Homo sapiens: one gene and its partners. The protein of the gene in region 2 purifies or fractionates together with the protein of the main gene of each other region. This does not show direct contact. Each region holds a gene or a part of one and is shown on either strand. Other genes may lie near its edges.

The links.
Region 1: the proteins of TBC1D14 (region 2) and TRAPPC8 purify together in Homo sapiens (affinity purification with mass spectrometry; 2 studies listed by BioGRID and IntAct, with this or other methods). This does not show direct contact.
Region 3: the proteins of TBC1D14 (region 2) and TRAPPC11 purify together in Homo sapiens (affinity purification with mass spectrometry; 2 studies listed by BioGRID and IntAct, with this or other methods). This does not show direct contact.
Region 4: the proteins of TBC1D14 (region 2) and TRAPPC10 purify together in Homo sapiens (affinity purification with mass spectrometry; 2 studies listed by BioGRID and IntAct, with this or other methods). This does not show direct contact.

The regions. Positions count from the first base shown.
Region 1 is NC_000018.10:31,828,673-31,835,159, forward strand, and holds the end of TRAPPC8 (trafficking protein particle complex subunit 8), read right to left. Parts: exon of another isoform or gene 3,640-6,487; intron 3,502-3,639; coding exon 3,412-3,501; intron 2,318-3,411; coding exon 2,083-2,317; 3' UTR 525-2,082; downstream 1-524. UniProt on the Homo sapiens protein: Plays a role in endoplasmic reticulum to Golgi apparatus trafficking at a very early stage. Maintains together with TBC1D14 the cycling pool of ATG9 required for initiation of autophagy. Involved in collagen secretion.
Region 2 is NC_000004.12:7,024,826-7,031,825, reverse strand, and holds part of TBC1D14 (TBC1 domain family member 14), read right to left. Parts: intron 6,823-7,000; coding exon 6,564-6,822; intron 1,500-6,563; coding exon 1,434-1,499; 3' UTR 1-1,433. UniProt on the Homo sapiens protein: Plays a role in the regulation of starvation-induced autophagosome formation.
Region 3 is NC_000004.12:183,711,275-183,714,126, reverse strand, and holds the end of TRAPPC11 (trafficking protein particle complex subunit 11), read right to left. Parts: intron 1,528-2,852; coding exon 1,483-1,527; 3' UTR 538-1,482; downstream 1-537. UniProt on the Homo sapiens protein: Involved in endoplasmic reticulum to Golgi apparatus trafficking at a very early stage.
Region 4 is NC_000021.9:44,085,296-44,092,350, reverse strand, and holds part of TRAPPC10 (trafficking protein particle complex subunit 10), read right to left. Parts: intron 5,550-7,055; coding exon 5,391-5,549; intron 4,653-5,390; coding exon 4,423-4,652; intron 2,519-4,422; coding exon 2,418-2,518; intron 429-2,417; coding exon 302-428; intron 1-301. UniProt on the Homo sapiens protein: Specific subunit of the TRAPP (transport protein particle) II complex, a highly conserved vesicle tethering complex that functions in late Golgi trafficking as a membrane tether.

The DNA of each region.
Region 1 (6,487 bases), on a different chromosome or scaffold from region 2:
TTTCTTTGATTTTTGCTGAGCTCTTGTATAGAAAACCAACCTATGTTGCAATTGATAAGCGAGAATAATTTTAGTATGAATGCTGGTTGATATTTCTGTTTACATTAACGAGGAAGAGGAAGTGAGAAAACACATGTTGGATCTTCACTAGTTCATCAGTGATACGGGCAACTTCTTTGTTGAACTGGGTAAAACTTTTCAGATACTGCAGGAATATTTTCCTAAACTATTTGTGCTACTCGTTACAGCTACAAATATGCAACACTTTTAATATGCATCACTAACATTTTCTCCATCACTTTCTTAGGTCTAGCGTAGACAACAAAAATAAATAAATCAAGCCCTGGTGTGTAGCATTTGCTGGTTTTCCTGAGGTAAACATTCTACTATCATTGATTTCAAGCTACCAGCAAGTCACTGAATGTAGGGTTGGCAAGAGATGAGCAGAAACACACCATTGTGTAGTATTTCCAGGATACAGATAAAATAGACATAAATAATCCTGAGTAATATTCAGGAAGTAATTTTGAGTGCTTTATTACCTTTATTTTTAATATATTCAGTTGTAGGTTTATATAGTTTAATTTTTTTATTAGTGTCTGTTTAACAATCGGTTCAATTTAATATTCAGCTGAGTGGTTTAAATATGAGATACCACTGTGATTATGCCTCCTCATTCTTGTCTTTCCTCCTCAGACTTTTTATAAGCCCATGGCCCTAAACTCTCAAGAAGGAAATGAGTGTCCTTAGAATGTGACCTTCCTCTCCAACTTGTCCCACACCTGCTAAGACACAGAGTGGAAGGAGCTGAAAAGCCAGAGACCCACTTAAGATCCAGAAGCATAAGCAGCAGTTGCAGAGAGGCACACAGACTAGCCACCCATCTCTCAAGAAGAGTTGTTCCAAGTACAGGTTTGGAATCTTCAGTCTGAAAACGGGGTCTTTTGATCTCTCCCCACTTTGGTGCAGTCTGCTCCGATTAGTGCCGAGATTGAGACTGGAACAAACCATGGTAGCTGTCAATGGCACAAGGACCCCATCTGCTCCAGACTTGACTGACCCTGGCTCTTGTACTCCCTGCCACCCACTCCTACACCCTGTCTTCCCTCCTTCTCCAATGACAAGAGATATTCATTGAAACAACCTTGCTCCCATTTCTCTATCTGCAGCAGGGCTGAATTGAAATTTCTTATGTCCAAATGCCCATTCTCTGAATAAAAAAATATTTTGAAACCAGACTTTCTAATCAACAGATACTAATACGCTATACAGTGAATAGCATGTCTTTATTCTATTTACAGTATATTTGTTATAAATATAATACATTTTTGAAAAGCTTATTTTTAATTAACTTGAGATTTATATTTTAAACAGATCAACTCAATAGTTAACGTTATATAATAAAGAATATGGTAATTTTAATGACAAAAATCGTATTGTGAAATAGCGCACTCTATACTGAGATGAATGAGGGGAAAAAAGTCAAAACTCCTTTCAAAACTATATTCAAAGCATCAGAAAAAATTTTTTTTTCTTTTTACAAAGTTATGTATAAGTCATAGGGACCACCAAATACTGAAATATGAAGACTCTATGACCAAAGTTCAAAACTGATTTTAAGGAACTGTGTGAAGCAAGACAGGAAAATTTGTATTTAACACTCTATAGAACTTCACAGTAAAGCTGGAATTTAGAGACTAATGGCTTAACAGGAGTACTGCCAACAAGGCCTTTCCTTTCTCAGAATCATCTCCTAATATTCGTATACCATTGACAAGTTGTAACAGCAGACTTAGACTTTGTGTTTTCTTAAGATGGGGCTTAATAAGGTGCACAAATATGCTGATATCCTGTATTATGAGCATGTAAATTATTCTCAGGGTTTAAAGAAATACAGAAAAAGAATGTTAAGTATTCTCAGTCCAACGTGCTTTGCATCATCAACAAAATGACAAGTCAAAGTATTTTGCAGGGATCAGATATCAATCAACCTCCATAACAAGTTAGGTATATCAAATACTGCTGTAAAACCCATCCAGCAAAAACTGATTATTGTGGATTTCAGTACAAATTTCCAAGTTGTCACACATTACTGATGATGATCAGGGCAGGCATGGAATTCTGCTGACTTGTTTCAAACACTGTAACTTGGTCCGATAACTTGGCAAATACCCTAGGAGTTCCAAGGTTATAAACACCTGTATGAACAAAGCATGCTTTCAGCTGCAGACTGTGAATCTCCTGGCTTTTAAGTTGAAGTTTATACTGTGTTTGTCCAAGCCATGTGAATGATCCATGGATTTCCAGTGCTTCTGGACTAAGGGAGGAGGAAAATGTAAGTTGCAGGATTTTTTTCTTTTTAATTTTTTTCCCAAAGTCACATTAACATATCCCTTTCAGCTGGGCGCGGTGGCTCACGCCTGTAATCCCAGCACTTTGGGAGGCTGAGGCAGGTGGATCACCTGAGATCAGGAGTTCAAGACCAGCCTACCAACATAATGAAGCCCCGTCTCTACTAAAAATACAAAATTAGCCAGGTATGGTGGTGCACGCCTGTAATCCCAGCTACTCAGGAGGCTGAGGCAGGAGAGTCACTTGAACCTGGGAGGCGGAGGTTGCAGTGAGCTGAGATTGCACCACTGCACTCCAGCCCATGAGAGAGCAAGACTCCATCTCAAGAAGAAAACAAACATCCCTTTCATCTAACAATTCTATTTCTAAAAATTATTTTATGAAGCCAACTGTTTATTAATAATAGCAACATCATTACTATAACAGCTAACATTTATTATTTAATAGTTTCTATTCTCTAGGCACAATGCTAAAAGTGGATTATTTCATTTAATGCCCTAAGAGTTAGTATATGTTGGAACTTGATTTCAAACCTAAACTTTTAACTCCTTAGTTAGCCATATATAAGTGTCTGTACATGAATGCTTTTAATATTGAAACTGTTTATAATATTGAAAAATGGAAAACCCAGTACCCAATAAAGTATTAATAAATTTATGATACACAAAATCACATATATAGGTGTGTGTTTGGATTTCAGAGAACTGTCCCAGATCCTGTTTGGGGTGTTATACAAAAATATTAAGTATACGCTTTATAGTATTTTTCCAAAAATTCAAAAATTTCTGAATTCCCAAAAGCATTTGGCTCTAGGAGTATCTGATGTGGGACTGTGGATCTGGATTTTTTTTTGTTGTTAAGTACTATTTTATAATCAAGAAAAAAAAATCTTTAATATTTAAAGCCTCTGTAACACATCTGTAAGCCTTCTATATTACCAAACAAAAAACCAGGACAAGCTTGAGTAACTTTCTTATCCATGTTAGGTAATTATTTGCATAATTTCAAAATATTAAATTGCTCCCAAATCAAATAACCTTGCACTAAACAAATCTTTACCTTGTTGTTTTATGCCGAAGATCAACTATGACATCTACATCAGCCTTAGAACAATTGGAAAGTAAAAGAGTGACTGGTACTAAACAAAGGCTATGGAAGAAAAATAAACAAAAAAGTTATATATTTTTTTCTTCTTAAAAGCAATTTTCCTGAAAATAACACTTAAGACTATGTAACAGAGCATAAGCTCCTTAAAAACAATCAGATTCAAGAAGGAAAAAGCTCAAGTTCCAAAATCACTCAAGACAAATTATATTGTAAATAAAAAATATATTAATACAATGACAATATTAAATATCAGAATATATACATTCACAGAACTATTTTATTTTCATTTATTAATCTTCTAAAAACAACTAAAATGTTTCTAGATATTTCACAAAATGAAAAACAAAATCTCAACTTAGATCAATGAAGAAAAAGTAAACCATGAAAATGCCAACAACTAATACTGTTGTCTTTGTGCTTATTAAAAATTACTTAATTTTGAGAACTTGGCCTAGACTGACATTTGTTTTTCTATCAAATTTGCACAACATCATGTTTTGAAGAATATAAGAATGATTTCTATATAGTTATGAGGAAATCTCTTTCGAGTGGATACATTTTGCTCAGGTAGCCTAGTTTCTGATACCATAATTAATAAATTACTAAAGCATAGGAAAAAAGGCAGTGATAGAAGAGGACATGCGAATAGAGTGGTACAGATTTCAAATCAAGAATGCAAGAAATGAATATAACATGTACAAATGAAGCAGGGTTATATACTATTATCTACCTTTTACTCTATAAACACAAAGATAGTAAAGAAGAAAAAATAGTAACCGTATAAGTTCATACACATTAACTTTTAAATTCTGCTCAGATAATATATTTTATACTTTCAGAAACTTTATATCTTCTTACTGAGAAATACTTTTTAAACAATACCGCAAACGTCACAGGTTTCCCTAAACAAAAACTAAGATGATTTAAAATACATACCAGGTTGTACTGGTGCTATGCCCTAACTTCCCCCACAAACTTCTCATGTGGCAAGAAGGGCAACAAAGACTACTGGGTAGGTGTCCAGTCAGTCTGAAGCATCTCATTAAATTAAGTTCCAATTGCATAATTTGTAGCCCAAAGTAAAAATTCAGGAACTTATGCTATTCTGTTCCCATTTGATCCTCAAATGTCAAATTCTTTGTACCTTATACAAATGCTTCTAGTAGAAGAAGAAATGTGAACATGTGGATATCTCCTGGTCCAAAGTGAAACTCATCATCTTCATTCCAGTGAAGAGCACCCCCATCTACCCCAGCAAACTGTAAGTATCATACTGATTCCTCCTAACAGTCACTAACCTCCACTCCCAATGTTCTTCACAAATTCCTGCCAATTCTCTCACCCACACATCTCTGGAACCTGGTTACTTCACTGTATCTCATTTTCCTTACAAGTTCAAGTCTCATGTCTCATTTTACTGCAAGAGCCTCTTAATTAGCACCACAATGCAATCTATTCTTTAACCATGTTTCTCACACTTGAGTATGCACCAGAAATACCTGGCAAGCTTGTTTTAAAAAACCTGCTGGGCCTACTCTCAGAGATTCTGATTCCATAGGTCTGGAGTGTGGCCCAAACATTGCATTCCTAGGCTGGGCACGGTGGCTTGCGCTTGTAATCCCAGCATTTTGGGAGACCGAGGCGGGCGGATCACAAGGTCAGGAGATCAAGATCATCCTGGCTAACATGGTGAAACCCCGTCTTTACTAAAAATACAAAAAGTAGCCGGGCGTGGTGGCAGGTGCCTATAGTCCCAGTTACTCGGGAGGCTGAGGCAGAAGAATGGCATGAACCCAGGAGGTGGAGCTTGCAGTGAGCCGAGATCACACCACTGCACTCGAGCCTGGGTGACAGAGCAAGACTCCGTCTCAAAAAAAAAAAACAAAAAACAGAAATTACATTTCTAAGTTCCCAGATGATACTAATACTAATGCTCCTGGTCTGGGATCACATTTTGGTTGTTGTTGTTGTTGTTGTTGTTGTTTTTTATTCTTTGAGATGGAGTTTTGCTCTTTTTGCCCAGGCTGGAGTGCAGTGGCACGATCTTGGCTCACTGCACCCTCAGCTTCCCAGGTTCAAGCTATTCTGCCTCAGCCTCCCCAGTAGCTGGGATTACAAGCGCTCGCCACCACACCCGGCTAATTTTTTTTTATTTTTTAGTAGAGATGGGGTTTCACCATGTTGACTAGGCTGGTCTTGAACTCCTGACCTCAGGAGATCCGCCCGCCTTGGCCTCCCAAAGTGCTGGGATTACAGGTGTGTGCCACCAGGTCCAGTCTTGGGACCACATTTTGAAAACTGCTTTACACATTAGTTTTTCTAAAATGCTAATCTAATGAACCACAAACAGGGCTGAGAAATCAAAGTTCTGACAACTATTCTCCCACCACTGCATCCAGTGAAAAAGCTGGGCTCTAGAGTCAGACTGCTACCTGTACCTCAGTTTTCTCAACTGTAAACTGCAAAGAATAATAATTGATTCTACCTCTTGGGTTTGTTGTGATTAGGTAAAACATGTTAAGTGCTGAGAATGGTGACTAGCACATGTTCAAAAGCTCCATAAACATTATTTAATATAACAATTTATGCTCATGGCAGCTAAACATAGTATGATTTTATCTTTGTTATCTCCTGTCACCTATTCTTTCTTCTATTCTCATACCTCTACTGCTCTGTGTCCCACTACCATGACCAAACCTCCTACTGTCCCATTTCCTCACATTTCTACTTGTTTTCTGAAACCCCCATTAAATTAAGAATGCTTCCTTATATCCTCCATCTCTTCTCTTTGTGTTTCTACATCTATCTTTAACTGTATTGTCCTCTCAACAATAGATGCTGTATTTCTTCCAACATCTTCCATACCTCAGGGTGGCTGATGTAGTTCTTAATGATTTCTTTCTACTACCTCTCCTGTAAAGATGCCTCCACTTTTTCATCATAAACTACCTTAAGGTTTGTATTCTTTTTTCTGTTCCCATTCTAACAAACACAGTGACAGTAACTCAGTACAGCGAGAATTCTTTGG
Region 2 (7,000 bases):
AGAAATGAGATCAGCCTGGGGGCACCCCCTGGGGTGGGAAGTGTGGCTGAGAAGGGCCGTGGAGTGCAGAGCACCCCAAGGCACACATGTACGCATGACTAACCAAGCCCGTGACCGGGTCCGCAGAATGCTCCCCAGGACCAGCCTGCCAGCGGACCGCCACGTGGGCCCTGCTTCCAGACACTGGCCTGCCCTTTAGACTGCGCAGCTGCAAAACGGTTCATTTCTGTGATTTTGGATAACCAAAGTCCTCACACAAAGTTCTACAATTAGTCAAGGAAAAGACAGAACAAAAAATTTGCCAACGACCCTGGGAAAGTCAGCTAAAATGGGGAGGCTGATGGTCCAGTATGAGCATCTGACGAGATTGTCTAGGCTGTTAGACGTGTGTTGCTCGCTCCTCCGTCTGTACAACGGGTCATGAAGCACACGTTCTAAAGTCAAATGTGTGAGGGACTCACTGGCACTTAGGATGGGTCCAGCTGTGCAGGGCTCAAAGGCAGAGAGGAGCCACTGCTGGCACAAGGGGCCACCTCCCCCACATGTGCTGTTCTGGGCTGCTGCCCTGGCCTCCACTGAACAGGCAGGTGGGAGAGGGCCCAGCCACACATCTCTTTCTCTACCCTTTTACTTACAGGGGGCTGATTCCACTCTGTGTTCTCTCCGCTTTTAAGCCTATCTCTATTGCCACAGGGCTTCCTCGCAAATAGCTCCTCCTCTCGAACTTTCCACCTCCGCAGGACCGATGCCAGGGAGCAGTCTCCCAGAGCGCAGTCCCACTGGAGCCCACGTGTGCACCTGCAGCCTCTACACTGTGACTGTGTCAAGGCAACATGGCCCAGAGCTCACCTGCAGGCTGGGTCGATGCCCAGGTATCCACAAACACACATCAGTGGCCATCCTCAGAGAGCCCCTGTTCCTTTAATGCTATCTTTCGTAGGTGAGTTTTAGAAACGTGACCTCCAGCTCTGGAAAAACTATCTCAATAACTCAATCAGCGATCCCTTTCTTATCGAAAACATGTAAATATCAGCCAAAGCATCTCAAGTCTCCCAAATAACATCTCTCATGCATCCTGGCTAAGACTGTAACATACTTCCCAGTAGTTGACATAGAAACATTACAATTTAATTAGCTTTTGCTGAAATAAAGGAGTGGGGGTGAGCCACTGCCCATCGTTCAACTGTGCAGCAGATGCAGTGGCTGGCTGTGGTCCGCAGCAGCTCATCCTTCCACTGAGCTGCTTAAGGCTAAGCCTTGGTTTAATTCTTTAAAAGTTTTTGTGTTTGTTTTGTTTAAGGCCAACTCCAGTGTTAGGAATCAAACTTAAAGAGCGTCTGTTCTTCTCGGCTGCCCGGGTGTCAGTCTGAAACAACAGAGGGGCCGCGGCATGGGGCTCTGATTGGTGCCGAGTGCGAATTCCCGCTGCAGCCTCAGTGTCGGAGGGACGGACTTCCCTTCTCCATTTCCCGGCTGTCTTTCTGCAATGCAGTCAGTACCTAGAAGTCACAGGGAAGACAGCTGAGGTTAAGTGACCACGCACACAGATCCTGACAGCAGCGAAGCAGAGACAGCAGTAGCCTCCTAACAGGGTCCCCCGGCTCCCCACTTCCACTGCCTCCAACCCTCCAGGGTCTTCCACTCCTACGTCCTTCGTGGTCTTTCCAACATGGACACCTGCCCGTGCCCTCTCTGGCCTGGTGAGCTAGCTGCACTCCTTCCAGCCGGCCACAGAATCCACGTCAAAGCACAGCTGGGGGCCTCACTGGGGTCCTGCAGTGGCCACCCAGGAAGCCCAGGCCTGAACGCTAGGATGCTAATAAGCCCTGTGCCCATCCCGCTGCACTCCTGCCACCCTGTTCCTCCTCCACCAGGAAGCCTGCCACCTGAGAAGGCCTCAAGGCACTGGTTCCTCTTGCCTGCCTTCCTGAGCTCACCCAGAGCCTGCTCCCTCCTCTGTTCTCACAGTTCTTGGTCAACATCCTTCTTTTTCTTCTTTTTGAGATGGAGTCTCGCTCTGTCACCCAGGCTGGAGTGGAGTGGCGCCATCTCGGCTCACTGTAATCTCTGACCCCCGGGTTCAAGAGATTCTTCTGCCTCAGCCTCCTGAGTAGCTGGGAATACAGAGGTGTGCCACCACGCCTGGCTAATTTTTGTATTTTTAGTACAGACAGGGTTTCACCGTATTGGCCAGAATGGTCTCGAACTCCTGACCTCATGATACGCCCGCCTTGGCCTCCCAAAGTGCTTGAGCCACCATGCCAGGCCAACACCCTTCTTTTAAAAGATATTCCACGCCATTGTGGCTGCTTAGCAATTGCAGCAACACTAACAGGCTCCACGCCAAGCAGAGAACTCTGCCAGCGCTTCGCGCCCAGCACCCGCTTAGCCCACGCGACAAACTCTGGAAGGCTAATGCCCCAACATGAGGGGCCTGAACAACAGACATGTACGGAAGTGACGTGCTCAAAGTCCAAGGGTGAAACCAAGAGAATCTTGGTAACACAGTGCTACCTGCCTGGGGCCAGGAACCATGCCACTTTGAGTCACAAATTTAAAAGTAAAAGCATTTTGGTTTCAATTAAGGTGCAGAAAAGGAATAATGGCAGATAAAGTCCCCCTGCATCTTGAAGTAAATGGGGTTGCTGGCTCAACATAAACATTTAGTCATTTTGAAAAAGCTCATGGCTGGGCGTGGTGGCTCATGCCTGCAATCCCAGCACTTTGGGAGGCCAAGGGAGGAAGATCACTTGGGCCCAGGAGTTTGAGACCAACCTCAGCAACAAAAAAGCAAACAAATCTCTACAAAAACAAACAAATATTGGCTGGGTATCATGGCACATGCCTGCAGTCCCAGCTACTTGGGAGATTGAGGTGGAAGAATTGCTTGAGCCCCGGAGGTTCAGGCTGCAGTGAGCTGTGATCGCACCACTGCACTCCAGTCTCGGCAATGAGAGTGAGACTCTGTCTCAAAAAAAAAAAGAAGGAAAAAGAAAAAGAAAGCTCACCAGTGTCTTAACCTTAAGCACAGGATTTGAGAGAAATGTGCATGGACCACAAGTCCCATGAGACCTGAACTGTATAAAAGTTACTGATGCCTGGACCAGGTGTGGTGGCTCACGCCTATAATCCCAGCACTTTGGGAGGCTGAGGTAGGTGGATCGCGAGGTCAGGAATTTGAGACCAGCCTGGTCAACGTGGTGAAACCCCGTCTCTACTAAAAATACAAAAATTAGCTGGGCATGGAGGCGGGCGCCTGTAATCCCAGCTACTCGGGAGGCTGAGGCAAGAGAATCGCTTGAACCCGGGAGGCAGAGGTTGCAGTGAGCCAAGATTGCGCCACTGCACTCCAGCCTGGGCAACAGGGTGGAGACTCCGTCTCAAAAAAAAAACAAACAAAAAACTGACAGCACGTCACTGATGCCCAAGCCCCCCACCCCCATCATCAGACTAACTCCTATCACCATCCCATTAATAACAATGTCCTACGGTCAAATAATCTGACCCAGTTTTAACCAATAGTTTTTACCTAGTCCCTAAAATATGCAAGGATCAAAATGGCTGATCTGGGTTTAATCCTTTCCTGTGTATGTGGGTGTGCAGTATGTGGATGCGCAGGGACTGACCTGCACCTGTACGTGGGTGTGTATGTGCATGTGAGGTGTGTGGGTGTGTAATGTGTACGTGTGGGTGTGATGTGTGGGGTGACGTGTGTGTGGGGCTGTGATAGGTGTATGTGGGGGGTGATCTGTAGGTGTGTGTGTGGGTATGCAATGTGTAGGTGTGTGATGTGTGCATGTATGTGTGGGTGTGTGTGGGGTGATGTGTAAGTGGTGATCTATGTGTGGGGGGGTGGGCAATGTGTGTGTGGGGGGTGATCTGTGCGTGTGGGTAACTGTGTGGGGTGATTGTGTATGTGTGTGATTGTGGGTGACTGGGTGTGCAATGTGTGTGCATGGGGGTGATCTGTGTGTGTGTGGGTATGCCTGTGTGGGGTGACTGTGTATTTAAGGGTGTGTGATATGTGTAGGGGGTGATTGTGTATGGATGTGTGATGTGTGTGGGGTGATTGTGTATGTGGGTGTGTGATGTGTGGGGGGTGATTGTGTGTGGTTGTGTGATGTGTGGGGGGTGATTTTGTGTGGGTGTGTGATTGTGTGGGGTGATTGTGGGGGTGTGTGATGTGTGTGGGGTGATTGTGTGTGGATGTGACTGTGTAGGGTAATTGTATGCGTGGGTGGGTGTGTGATGTGCGTGTCGGGTGATTGTGGTGTGTGGTGATTGTGTATGTGATGTGTGTGTGGGGTGACTGGGTGTGAGGTGTAGGGGTGTGACTGTGGGTGTGCAATGAGTGTGCGTGGGGGTGATCTGTGCGTGTCTATGTGTGGGGTGACTGTGTATGTGTAGGTGTGTGGGGGGTGATTGTGTGGGTGTGTGAGATGGGGGGTGAATGGATGTGCAATGTGTGTGCGTGGAGGTGATTGTGTGTGTGGGGTGATTGTGTACGTATAGGTGTGTGATGTGTGTGGGGGGGGTGACATATGTATATGCCATAAAACTCTCCCCCAGTGGGAAATGTTACAGGACAAATGACCTGCTTTTTTGGGGTTTTTTTGAGATGGAGTCTCACTCTATTGCCCAGGCTGGAGTGCAGTGGCATGATCTTGGCTCACTGCAACCTCTGCCACCCAGGTTCTAGCAATTCTCCTACCTCAGCCTCCCGAGTAGCTGGGATTGCAGGAGCCTGCCAACGTGCCCGGCTAATTTTTGTATTTTTAGTAGAGATGGGTTTTCACCATCTTGGCCAGGCTTGTCTTGAACTCCTGACCTCGTGATCCACCTGCCTCAGCCTCTCAAAGTGTTGAGATTACAGGCGTGAGCCACTGCACCTGGCCAACCTGTTTTTTTTGTTTGTTTGTTTGTTTTTTTAAGACAGGGTCTTCCTCTGTTGCCTAGGCTGAAGCACAGTGCCGCAATCACAGCCCAGTGCAGCCTTGACCTCCCAGGCTCAAATGGTCCTCCCATCTCAGCCTCCCTAGCAGCTGGAACTACAGATATACGTCACCATGCCCAGCTAATTTTTGTATTTTTTGTAGAGACGGGGTCTCACTATGTTGCCCAGGCTGGTCTCAAACTCCTAGGCTCTAGTGATCCCCCAACCTTGGCCTCCCAAAGTGCTGGGATTACAGGTGTGAGCCACTGTGCCCAGCCTAAATGACCTGTTTTCTTTGACAAATAAAGGCAAGCAAGAGAGGGCTAAAAAGTGAGAAGTGGCGTGGCATAGATATTACAGAGGCTTAACAGAGCTTTCAACCAATCACAAGGCATGGACTTTATTTAGATCTTGATTCCAACCAACTATAAAGCCATTTATGACATCTGAATTTGAAAACTGGATATCTGATGATAGGAAGGAGTTAGTAGCTGAGTGGTAACGGTATTGCAGTTACGTTAAAAGAGCCCATATGAGTCAGAGATCGCTAACACCAACAGGTGACACGGTGCCTGGGACTCGCTTCAATATGGTGGGAAGGGGAGAGGTGGGAGGCAGCTCCAACAGCCGCTGCGCTTCCACAGTCACTGACACTGCAGAGCAGGCGTGTGGGGGTGCATTATTTTATGCTGTTCTAGTTTTGTAAATATTTTAAATCTTCCATTAAAAAAAAAAAAAGTTAAATCAAGAACAGACATTTCGGGGGGCTGAGGTGGGATGGTCACCTGAGCCTGGGAGGCGGGGGCTGCACTCCAGCCTGGATGACAGAGCGAGACCCTCTCTCAAAACAAAGAAATCCCCCAGGCATGGTGTAGCACGTACAGAAAAGGAAAAGTCTTCATAGACGTCAATCAACAAGGACTTCAAACCAATGCAGAGTGTATGCAGGATCAAGAACCCAAACTGGTTTTTTTTTCCTTTTTAGTATGACAAAGACTCGGAACAGGAAATGCAGGTCAATCCCACTGGGGACAGGACCTAGGAGGGATGCCTGGAGGGAAACCAAGGGATACGGACTATCCGCGCCACTGTTTGGGGCACTCAGCCCAGAGAGGGCACAGCAGCGCATGGGAAGACCCAGGAGGGACCCGCGCCCTCCTCTCTGGGCCTCCCTTTGTTGTAAGAGGGGGGTAATCCCACTTCCTTCTCAAGGACACACACAAAAGCCTGCCACAGGGCATGGCCACGGGGCTCAGTAAGTGGGTCCACTTTGCTTTCTGTCTCTGGCATTATTTTTTTTAAAAAGGGGGGTACGTGGCTTACAAAGTACTTTCTAACATGTAAAGAGCACTATAATGATACAAGTGCTGACCCTCCCAATGCCACTGCAGAGGAGGTGGGAAGGCTTTCATTATCCACACCCCATCCAGCTGACAGAAACCCAAAGAGGAGGCGACCCGCCGAGACGCCCTGTGGCACAGCCACGTCTCCACCCGGCCCCCCTCAGTTCCAGCCCAGGGACTCCATCAAAGGGGCTACGTCCTCAGACAGCACTTTACGTAGGGGCCTTCCTGAGTCGCGCCACTTGCCGGCTACGCTGTGGGAAGCCAAGAACACAAAGCCCGCTGACCTGAGCCCACTTCTTGTTTCGGCTCTGCATCTGGATCGTGGCGATGGAGGCAAACAGCTCCTCGGCGGGCAGGTCCTCGGGCAGCCGGGTCAGGAACTGGGCCATGTGAATGAAGTCCATCTTGGTCAGGATGTCCTCGAACAGCTTCAGGATGCCCAGGGCCGTGCGGAACAGGAACTCTTCCCCATCGCGACAGAACACGTCCCAGATACGACAGGCCAGGTCGAGGGGCAGAGATTTACTATATAAGGTAAAGATCCTAGGGGGTAAAAGTTGGAATTTTTCAGATTTTGAATCTCTCCTAACAAAGAAAGAACAGTGAATTCCAGTCTGATTCCATGAAAAACACTCCCCTAGTCACTTTCAGGCAACAGCTGGGGCCAGGGCCAGGCCTGCACTCACACTGAAGGGTAATTCTAACATCGCTCAGGACACAG
Region 3 (2,852 bases), about 180 Mb from region 2:
TCAACAAATTCTGATAACATGGAACTCTCCAGTAGAAAAGTGAATACCCTCTTCAGCCTTCCCATAAAAATATAGATGACACTGGCTGAGCACCCTCATACATAACTTTGGGTCTGGCACTGTTCCAAGCTCTTCTCATGTATGAATCTATATCATCCTTCATAACAAGCCTATAAGATGGGTGTTATTTACATCTTATATACAAGAACGCTGAGATACACAGAGGGTAAGGAACTTGAACAACGTCACCCAGACAAAAGCAGCAGAGGAGGGATTTGATCCTAGACAGCTGGACTCTAGAGTCATGCTCCATGGCCTCTACCTGAAAAGCCATGTTACAACAGGGAGCTCATGTCCTCCCAAGATAGCACTGTCCAACTCTCACATAATGTTACCAGAGCCAGTTCTAGAACACAGCCCAATTTTCAATCCTGTGCTTGCCATTGCATCTCATGCAACAGTGTTCTTAGTAAAAGCTGTTCCATGAAGCTGAAATCAAACAAGCTCAAAATAAAAGATAGAGACAGACAAGCATACTTGAAAGAGAACATGTTTATTTACATCACTATTTCCTTTTTACAATGCCTCCACCTTTTGAATAATAAAATTTTCCAGGAAATCAGGTCATTTTAAATTATTAAGGTATTTTAACAAATACAATTTTCACCCTATGATTTTTATTTACATGAGTTTTCAAGAGTTTTAAATAGTTCTTTTGAAACTGCACAATATAACCAGAAGGCCTGACTCAGACCCTGCATCTTTTCCAAAAACTTTCAGTCTAGGAAATTATGTTTATAATCAAATCCTTGCACTTTGGATCTTTTCCGATGAGGATTTTATTAACACCTCTAAAATATGAACCTGCTTCATAAATGATCCATATTTTGGCAGCAAGCTGAACCTATTTGACACTTCTTGATAGTAAGCAAAGATATTTTTGATACCTTAATTAAACTGCTTTGATTAAAACTTTCTGGAAGTTTTCCGTATCAGTCATACAACTCCCTATGTTGTTGTGTATGTGTTCTGAGTACACACTGAATTTATGAGAATGATTTATTTCCGGTCTGGCCAGCTCTGAAAGAGACACATGGGGGATTCGGAACTTTATGGCACAGGCACTGGTGCATCTGCTCTCTTTGTCCAGTCACACTTGGGATGCTTAATTTTCCTGATATTATACATGCAAATCACTTACTTTTCATAGAATTTACCATTCATCAAATGACTTTCAACAATAACAATGGTCTGACATTCTTTCATGTCGTACTGAGATTTCAGATATTTATTAGAGAAACTATAAGACAGATTTTCCTAATATTTTTGAAGTATGAGTTCCTCTGAATAGTTGGTATAACATCCATTAAAAAATAGAAAAGGTTAACTTTTTACCATGATCAAAGCTAGAGTTCACAATGAAACACCTGCATAGCTCTGCCCAACATCTCTGTAACAACAGCCAAGGGCCGGTCTTGAACATCATGCAGCAGCAATAGAGGTATCATCCATGAGTCGACCCTGTGGCTTTAAAGTGGGAAAAACAAAGTGGGTTTACAAAATTATAATATAATAACAAAAGCTCTATTAACTGGAAGGATTTTTAAATTCTTGAAACTGTTTTACAAAAACAGAATAAATGAGTGTAAGCATCAAAATAAAAATGGTGATATGGTGATTCTCCTCCTTTCACCCCACCTCTTTCTTTCTTCACTTGCACCTGGGGATGGCCACGGCACAGGCTGGGAGCTGCCCTCTCCTGTAGCCATCACCAGCTGACTCTGCACTTCCACCCGAAGAATCCTCTTCTGTCAGTACTTCTCTCTCAACCCTGCGTTCCAGCAGCTACTGCCAGGCCATCTCCCACATGTGGAATGGAACCTTGTTTATCATTCCTACTTAACTGATAGTTTTATTCTCTCTCTCTTGCTCAGGGCCCTCCTGTGTCTCAAGCTTTAAGCAGGTCCAGAGCCTGAGCTGACAGGTAAGTTCCTTTTGGGGACTCAAGGTTGCCCAATCTCCTGTTTGAGAAAAAGTGTCTGCAGTGAACTCCAATGCATGCTGCAAGGATAAAAGTGGCAGATAAAAACAAAAACTGCCCTATCTCTAAGATCACTGATTGAAAGAATTTAAAACATCACGTCAGAAAAGTCAAGACTAAGAATGAATAAAAGGTATCGTAACTGTTTTTAGTTGTAAAATTTCTGGCAGGTTAACAACATCCCAGAGGGATAGCTAGTAGCTAAAAGAATACAATTCTTACAAATAATTTTATTTTATTATACAGATATACAATAGCAGACCTTTGTGGGGAAAGCAGGAGAAAGATGATCAGGAAATGAAACAGAAGAGTGTTCACAATCAAAAGTGATTTGCTATGCTTTAAGCAGAAAGATTCTGAGGCATTCCCGAGGCAGTGAAGACAGCACTCCTGCTTTCAGTTTGCTGCTGCTGTGGTTGTTCAGATGTATATAGCAGTGTGTGTGTACATACATACAGAAACATAGCTAAGTATAGCTTCCAGACATTCACGGCAGGAATGGAGTGAGTGAAATAGGTTCCCGATCCTTGATTCTTGACTGTTTTTTTAGTACTGATGGGAGCTGCTCAATTTTAGAAACAAAATCATGGCTCAAGCTAGTGAAATCCCTGCCAAATGTAGCTTTTACAAGCAAGAGCAAAAAATGAGTGCATCATACAATTAGAAAACCAAAGCCTTTTATTCAAAGGAAGAAAAGTATGGATTCATCCTTGCCTAGGACGTCACTGTCTGGTATGGCAGTCGCTAGTCACATTTAGCGATTGAGCACTTGAAATGTGGCAGTGTAACTAAGCAAATTTAATTTAAACTG
Region 4 (7,055 bases), on a different chromosome or scaffold from region 2:
GCCCATGCAATCAACAGTGCGTTCAAACAGAAGCTTGGATCTGCACACGTCTACGCATAGAGTGGGACCAGTTTCAGATTTAATTCTTCTAAAAAGAAGAATTCATCCATCCAGCCACCCGCTTACTCAGGAGCAAGCCTCGATCCAGCCTCAGGGCAGCCGGAGGAGCTGCACAGGAGCCTTTACTCATCAGCAGTGCAGCTGTTCTATCTAAAGGCTCAGTCGCAACACATACTACATCATTTCCGTACACTCTGGTTCTCTGTTGAGAAGTTTATGCTCAGGTCTACACAATGTTTACCTGCTGGGACTGCGTGTTCAGTGGTACTAGTTGCAGGTCGGTACTATCACCGGTATCTACAAGATAACTATCTGACAGCTGAAAGTCAAGTTCTGACAAATTCTGGACACAAACTTGAACATATTTCCTAAAGTGGAAAAACAAAAAGTATTATTTTGATATGTAAGAACTTTATTAAATATATCTTAGCTTTGTTAAGGAGACCCTCTCTGCCTGGGGAATCAAAAAAGCAACAAAGCAAAGTAAGCTAAGTTGTTGCATAAGTTTCCCTTCAGATTTCACACCGAAAAGTGCCAGAAAATAAACCTTTTTGGCCGGGCACGGTGGCTCACGCCTGTAATCCCAGCACTTTGGGAGGCCGAGGTGGGCAGATTATGAGGTCAGGAGATTGAGACCATCCTGGCCAACATGGTGAAACCCCATCTCTACTAAAAATATAAAAATTAGCCAGACGTGGTGGCACGTGTCTGTAATCCCAGCTGCTCGGGAGGCTGAGGCACGAGCATTGCTTGAACCTGGGAGGTGGAGGTTGCAGTGAGCTGAGATCACGCCACTGCACTCCAGCCTGGTGACAGGGCGAGACTCCATCTCAAAAAAATAACAAATAAAAATAAATAAAAAAAGTTTTTAAAGAGGCAAGTTCTGTGAGGCAATGGAAGAAAGAATATAGTTTCTGACCAGCCTTATTAAGTGATCATGGCTGGTCACCCTCACTGGCCTTTGGGGAGCCACGGGGAGACAGCAGCAGCCCTCCTCATTACAGGTGAAGACTCTCCATTGAGAGATGATAGGCGGGGCTTATATCCATTTCCATTACATGCAAAACTTTGAAAATATTAATAATAGTTACTATTTTTTGAGACAGAGTCTTGCTCTTGTCGCCCAGGCTGGGGTGCAATGGCACGATCTCAGCTCACTGCAACCTCTGCCTCCCAGGTTCAAGTGATTCTCCTGCCTCAGCCTCCCGAGTAGCTGGGATTACAGGCGCCCGCCACCATGCCCGGCTAATTTTTGTATTTTTAGTAGAGACGGGGTTTCACTATGTTGGTCAGGCTGGTCTTGAACTCCCGACCTCGTGATCCGCCTGCCTCGGCCTCCCAAAGTGCTGGGATTACAGGCATGAGCCACCACGCCCGGCTGAAAAATAATTTTTTAATAAGGTTCTTTTAGAGATTATTGATGTTTTTAACTATTAATATCTACAGTTCCCTTTGCTGTGATTTGAAGGGGAAAAAAGCTGCTAGTATAATGTTCCATTCTAAACATGGGTCTGACGTTTTTGTTTCCAAATTATCCACACATCATCAATGGATAAAAAGTTGTGGTGAGAGGCCAGGCTAGCATCCCGAGCCCATTGATCAACGCTAGCACCGTCACTAAGGTAGGACACCTGGACACCGTGGGCCTCCCGGTGCAGTCAACAGGAAGCACACAGCCCCGCCTGCCTCAAAGCAGAACTGGAGTCTACTCAAGCCTTTAGGGCAGCTGTTTTCCACTGGGGCACGTCCGCCCCACCCAGAGGACACTGGGCAGTGTCTACAGACATCTGTGGCTGCCACACCTGCAGGTGGGGAGTGCTACTGGCATCTCATGGGAGAGCCTGGGGTGCTGCTCAACACCCTACAGCACACAGGAAAGCCCCTACAACAGAGTTATCTAGCCCAAAATGTCACTAATGCTGAGCTTAAAAGCTCCTGTTCTAGAGGTTGCAGGCAATTGACAAGAAATACAGGGACAGGAGAACTAGTTAACAAATCCAGCCAGATCCAGAAAGGCGGGCGTCCAGAGGAAACCTGGCCTGCAAGTGAACAAGTCGATGGCTTGAAAACAGGGAAGAAAGGATGAACAGAGATCTAGTGGTCTGATGGAGATTTTGGACCCCAAGTCACACAAAGCAACCATAAAAGGTCATTTTCAGACAGTTGGGAAAACCTGAATATGAACTGGATGTCACAGGACACCAGGGAATTGTGGATTTTAAGACACAAACAATGGCCTTGTGGTCACATAAGAAGACATCCTTGGTCACCACGAAGGCCAGTTTTGAACATTAGGAACCTCCACTTAGAAGAGTCTGGGGAAAGAAGCCAGGGCCCGCACGCTACGCCTCCGTTACCGTGTTCCTGAGGACAGGAGGCTGTGTGTGGTCCTGAAGGGTACGCTGAAGGTCAGTGCGATGACTGTGGAGTAGATGGACCACGGGCAGTCAATCGACACCTGAGGAGGAAGCACAAAGACACTCTCAGACCACTCGCCGACGGACAGCACAGCCACCACCACTGCTGCCCAGACTCACCTGCAGTGCCCGCCCACGCCCTAGACATTTTATTATGGCTTCAACCACTCATTATCCAGGAAGCAAAGCCTTACCCAACACATACACAAACCAACGAGAAACAGGAAGCTATGCATACAGACAAGAGAAACGAACGCAGAACTGGCAAGACATGCACACATCACCAGAGTCACCTCAACGGCGGAAGAGCACAGCCGTCCTCTAAGCAGCAGACCCACCTGCTGCTCCCATACACGCAGGGCCGCGGAGCCATGCATGTTGCAATGTGCACAGGGTTTTGACAAAGTGCTTTCAGTCATGTATTTCCAGATGACATTAGCCAATCAGTAACTACTCCATAGTTAATGAATTATCTAAGCATTTAATCCATGTGAGGCTGAATATGTAACTGAAAACCAAATCAGTTTAGGGGCACAGTGAGGACAAAGCTATTACATCCCTTAAGGGCAGGAAGGAAGCAAGTCTCAAGCCTTATTCCCCACAGGGAAGAGGTGAATACCCCAGCACACAGCGTGCGTGCCGCCAGTGCCAGGGAAGAGAGGATAACACGGCACATAGCACAGGTGCCACCAGCGCCAGGGAAGAGAGGATAACACAGCACACAGCACAGGTGCCACCAGCGCCAGGGAAGAGAGGATAACACGGCACATAGCACAGGTGCCACCAGCGCCAGGGAAGAGAGGATAACACGGCACATAGCACAGGTGCCACCAGCGCCAGGGAAGAGCGGGGTAACACGGCACACAGCACAGGTGCCGCCAGTGCCAGGGAAAAGAGGATAACACGGCACACAGCACAGGTGCCGCCAGCGCCAGAGAAGAGTGGGATAACACGGCACACAGCACAGGTGCCGCCAGCGCCAGGGAAGAGAGGATAACACGGCACATAGCACAGGTGCCGCCAGTGTCAGGGAAGAGTGGGATAACATGGCACACAGCACAGGTGCCGCCAGCGCCAGGGAAGAGTGGGATAACACGGCACACAGCACAGGTGCCACCAGCGCCAGGGAAGAGCGGGATAACACGGCACATAGCACAGGTGCCACCAGTGCTGCGCGCTCCTGCTGAGCTAAGCGCCACCTTCGTGAATGGTGAACGTCTGTGTGAGTTAAGGGAAAGACACTTCCTCAGGTTCTTCAAAAGCTGAACATTACAACATTCGTCTTCAGGCGTGGACTTGTCTGGTGACTCCGTGCTTTGGAAAGACGGCATGCCTTGCCCTTTGCCCCCGCTGCTCTTGGGCGTATACTGCGGCCCCTGGGCTGTTTCAGGGCCCTCAGGATTGATTTCTGGGCTACGAGACTTGGGCACACCCTGAGTAACATGATGCAGCGACACATTCCATGAGCTGATATCCTGTGGCTCTGGGACCGAAATCACATCTTTCTCAAGTAACTGTCAGTAAGTACCAGCACCAAAGCCTAAAATGAGACAGCTCCTCCGTGGCTGAGCTTATGAGTTTCAGTGGACAGACACCGAGGCACACACGACACAGACCTCCTCTGGCCTCGTCACCGGTCTAATGGACATGACCCAAGTTTTACGCCCCTCATGCCTAAGCCGGCCCTAACCTCTTACAGCAAACTCCCTGGCCCCTGGAACTGAGAGGGAAAGGTAGAGCTGGCTTGTCTCTGCCCTTGCAAAAAATGCACCCCTTATCTAAGAAAGGGTGATTCACAGACAGACAGAACTGCTAAACACATGCCCAGGGCATCGGGAATCAGAAGGAGCCAGGCTAACAGCAGGCATCGCTACATCGCCTTTCCCAGCAGGCAGGCGGGCGGCGGACGCCCCACAAGCTAAGCTCCTCCACTGTCCCTACTCACTTTGTGGTCTGTGGTAACCATGCAGCGGCCAGTTCTCTGTTTGTCCTTATGCTTCCTGTGGGGCTCTGCCATCCCCAGCATGTCACTCTCCCCTCCGAGTGCTGGGGCTGAAGGTAAAGAGAGAACTTCCAGTTCAAATTCGATCACGTGGTACGCAGGCGCAACAGGCAGACTGATGCTCGTGACCTTGTCGGAGGACTGAATCCGGAGCGCGGCCTCAGAAGACTGTTCTACGAAGGACAGAAAAAGTCACTTCAAAGCTGTTCCCTCGGTTTCACTTGTCCTTTTCCTTACAGCAGGTGATGGCCCAGCAGTGAGGCCACTGCTCAACCTCTCCCGCTCCTGCGCACCTGGCAGGCAAACCCAAGAACAAGGCCCCTAGGACAGAGCAGCCCTGTGTGAAAGCCGGCAGGCAGGCGCCCAGACCCATCATTGATCTCAATCTGAAGAGAGGAAAAGGGCATTTCCCACGGGGCCCACCCAAGTCCTGTGTAGGTCCCTGCATGACTTTCTCCCGTTCCAGCTCATCCGCAGATCCACCCCCACCCCAGGGGAGCAGGGTCCTCCCCTTCCCCTTCCTCGTGGCTGGGAGGATGGGAGTGCTCAGGGCTCTCAACAGCACCTGCAAGGGCTGCTCTGCTTTTGCTTCTCGGGAGCAGGGCCAGCCCAAGGGGGACAGGGTCTGGCAGGCATCACCATGGAACGTGACCCCAGCCGTGACCCCCATCTCCTAATCCTCAGCCAGACAAGCACTGCTCGGCCACTCAGCGTGTGAACCACTCTCAGTTTATCACCTCAGATGGGACCCCAGCACAGGCATCAGGCCGCAGGGCTCCTATGGAACACGGACTCCAGACACTGTTGAGGGGCGCTCAGCAGGATGGCAGCAAGGCCAGGCTCACCCTCACACCCACACAGTGCAGGGCAAGGTGGGCATCCTCCTTGGGCCTGGGTGGGCGGCACCTCACCTCTCGTGTTGGAGTAGACCACAGCCCTGCTCTCCGCCTGGCACAGGATGAGCATGGCTTCGGCATTGCTAAGCTGCAGGCTGTCTCCATTCTTTATCGTATAATGGCCGGTAGTGACAGTGAACTTGACTCTCTGAGGAATGCCTGCCAGAAGGCTATCTAAAGGAAAAGAGATCGTGGCTCAGCACCGCTGCCAACCGGAAGACAGCATCTCAGGGCCCGCAATGGGGTGAAAGGGGCTCTATTTCTTTTACTATGAAAGATTTGCTCCTTTGGGATCTCCATGAATTCCTTCTACTTCCATTCCCTTCTGCCCTAACTTTTCATCTCAATGATGTGGACTACAGGGTTGAAGGAGAACCTTGCTGGGGAAAAAAGAATCCTGTGAGTCAAGGAGTCTTATACCCATCTTGGTTCAGCAAGTCAGGGATTATGATCATGACTACGTCTCTGAGGGTCACAAAATTTGCCTGCCCATTAGTAGTAGAAGAGAATCACATAATGAGGCTTAAGAAGAGACTGTAAAGAAAACTTGACTGTGCTGGTGCTGCTCAAATATTCAAAACCTTCTCTGGATTTTTCAGCTTCAGGCCACGGGCTTTTGGGTTAAGAACAGTCAGCAGTCAGGTGGCTCCCCCTCACTCCAAGACAGCAATGAGAGGCAGGAGTGAGCTGAGGCCTCTGAGAATCCTGCTGCAGGGAAGACAGAAGGCAGGCAAGATACCAGGACCGGGGGGAGAGTGGACAGAGACAGGGGACACTAGGCAGGAAGCAGGAGCCAGGCCATGAGCCTGGCACTGCAGCCGCTGGGCCATGGGGAGGGCAGGGCCTGCTGGCTGGTGCTTCGGCTCCCCTGCGGGAATCGAGTTCAGCTTCTCTACACAATGTTCCAATGGAAGAATCACTGGAGAGACTGACTGCTGTGTCCCACATCTGACAGCCTTTGCTGGTGGCCACACAAGAGGCACAAATGCAGAAAAATAGGGGGAATGGGGGAATAACAGAAAAATGCCCTTTGTGATTTTTTTCCACGTAGAAGAAACAGGCAAATAAATAAATCGTTGCTAGCCCGAACAAAGGAGACATTCACTCACTCTTGTTCAGCTGCCACATGTTCTTCAATCATTTGTTTATAGCAACTCCTTCCAATTTTAGAACTTATCAGAAAGGACAATAGCTTTGAATTTCTCAAATGCCATGCCAGACGGACAAGTTTAATCAACCCTTTCAAAGGAAAACTTTTTTTTTTTTTAAGAGATGGAGTTTTGTTCTGTCACCCACGCTGGAGAACAGTGGCGCAATCACAGCTCCCTGAGGCCTCAAACTCCTGGGCTCAGGAGGCTGAGGCAGGAGCCTCAGCTGGGGCTCCAGCCTGTAGCTAGGACTAGAGGCCGTGGCGCACGACTACACCCAGCTAATTTACTTCATTTTTTTATTTTGCAGAGATGGGGTTTTGTCATCCTGCCCCGACTGGCTTACCCATGCTGGTCTCAAAGCCTTGGCCTCCCAAAGTGCTGGGATCTGAGTATAGATCCTAACTAAATCTAGTGTTTAGCATTTGAAACGTACTTCTAAGCAGGAAATTATATACATATTTATGAAACCCTGTGGTAGACATTAGCTGCTTCTTGGCCTAATGTGACACTGTAAAATACACATGTAGTT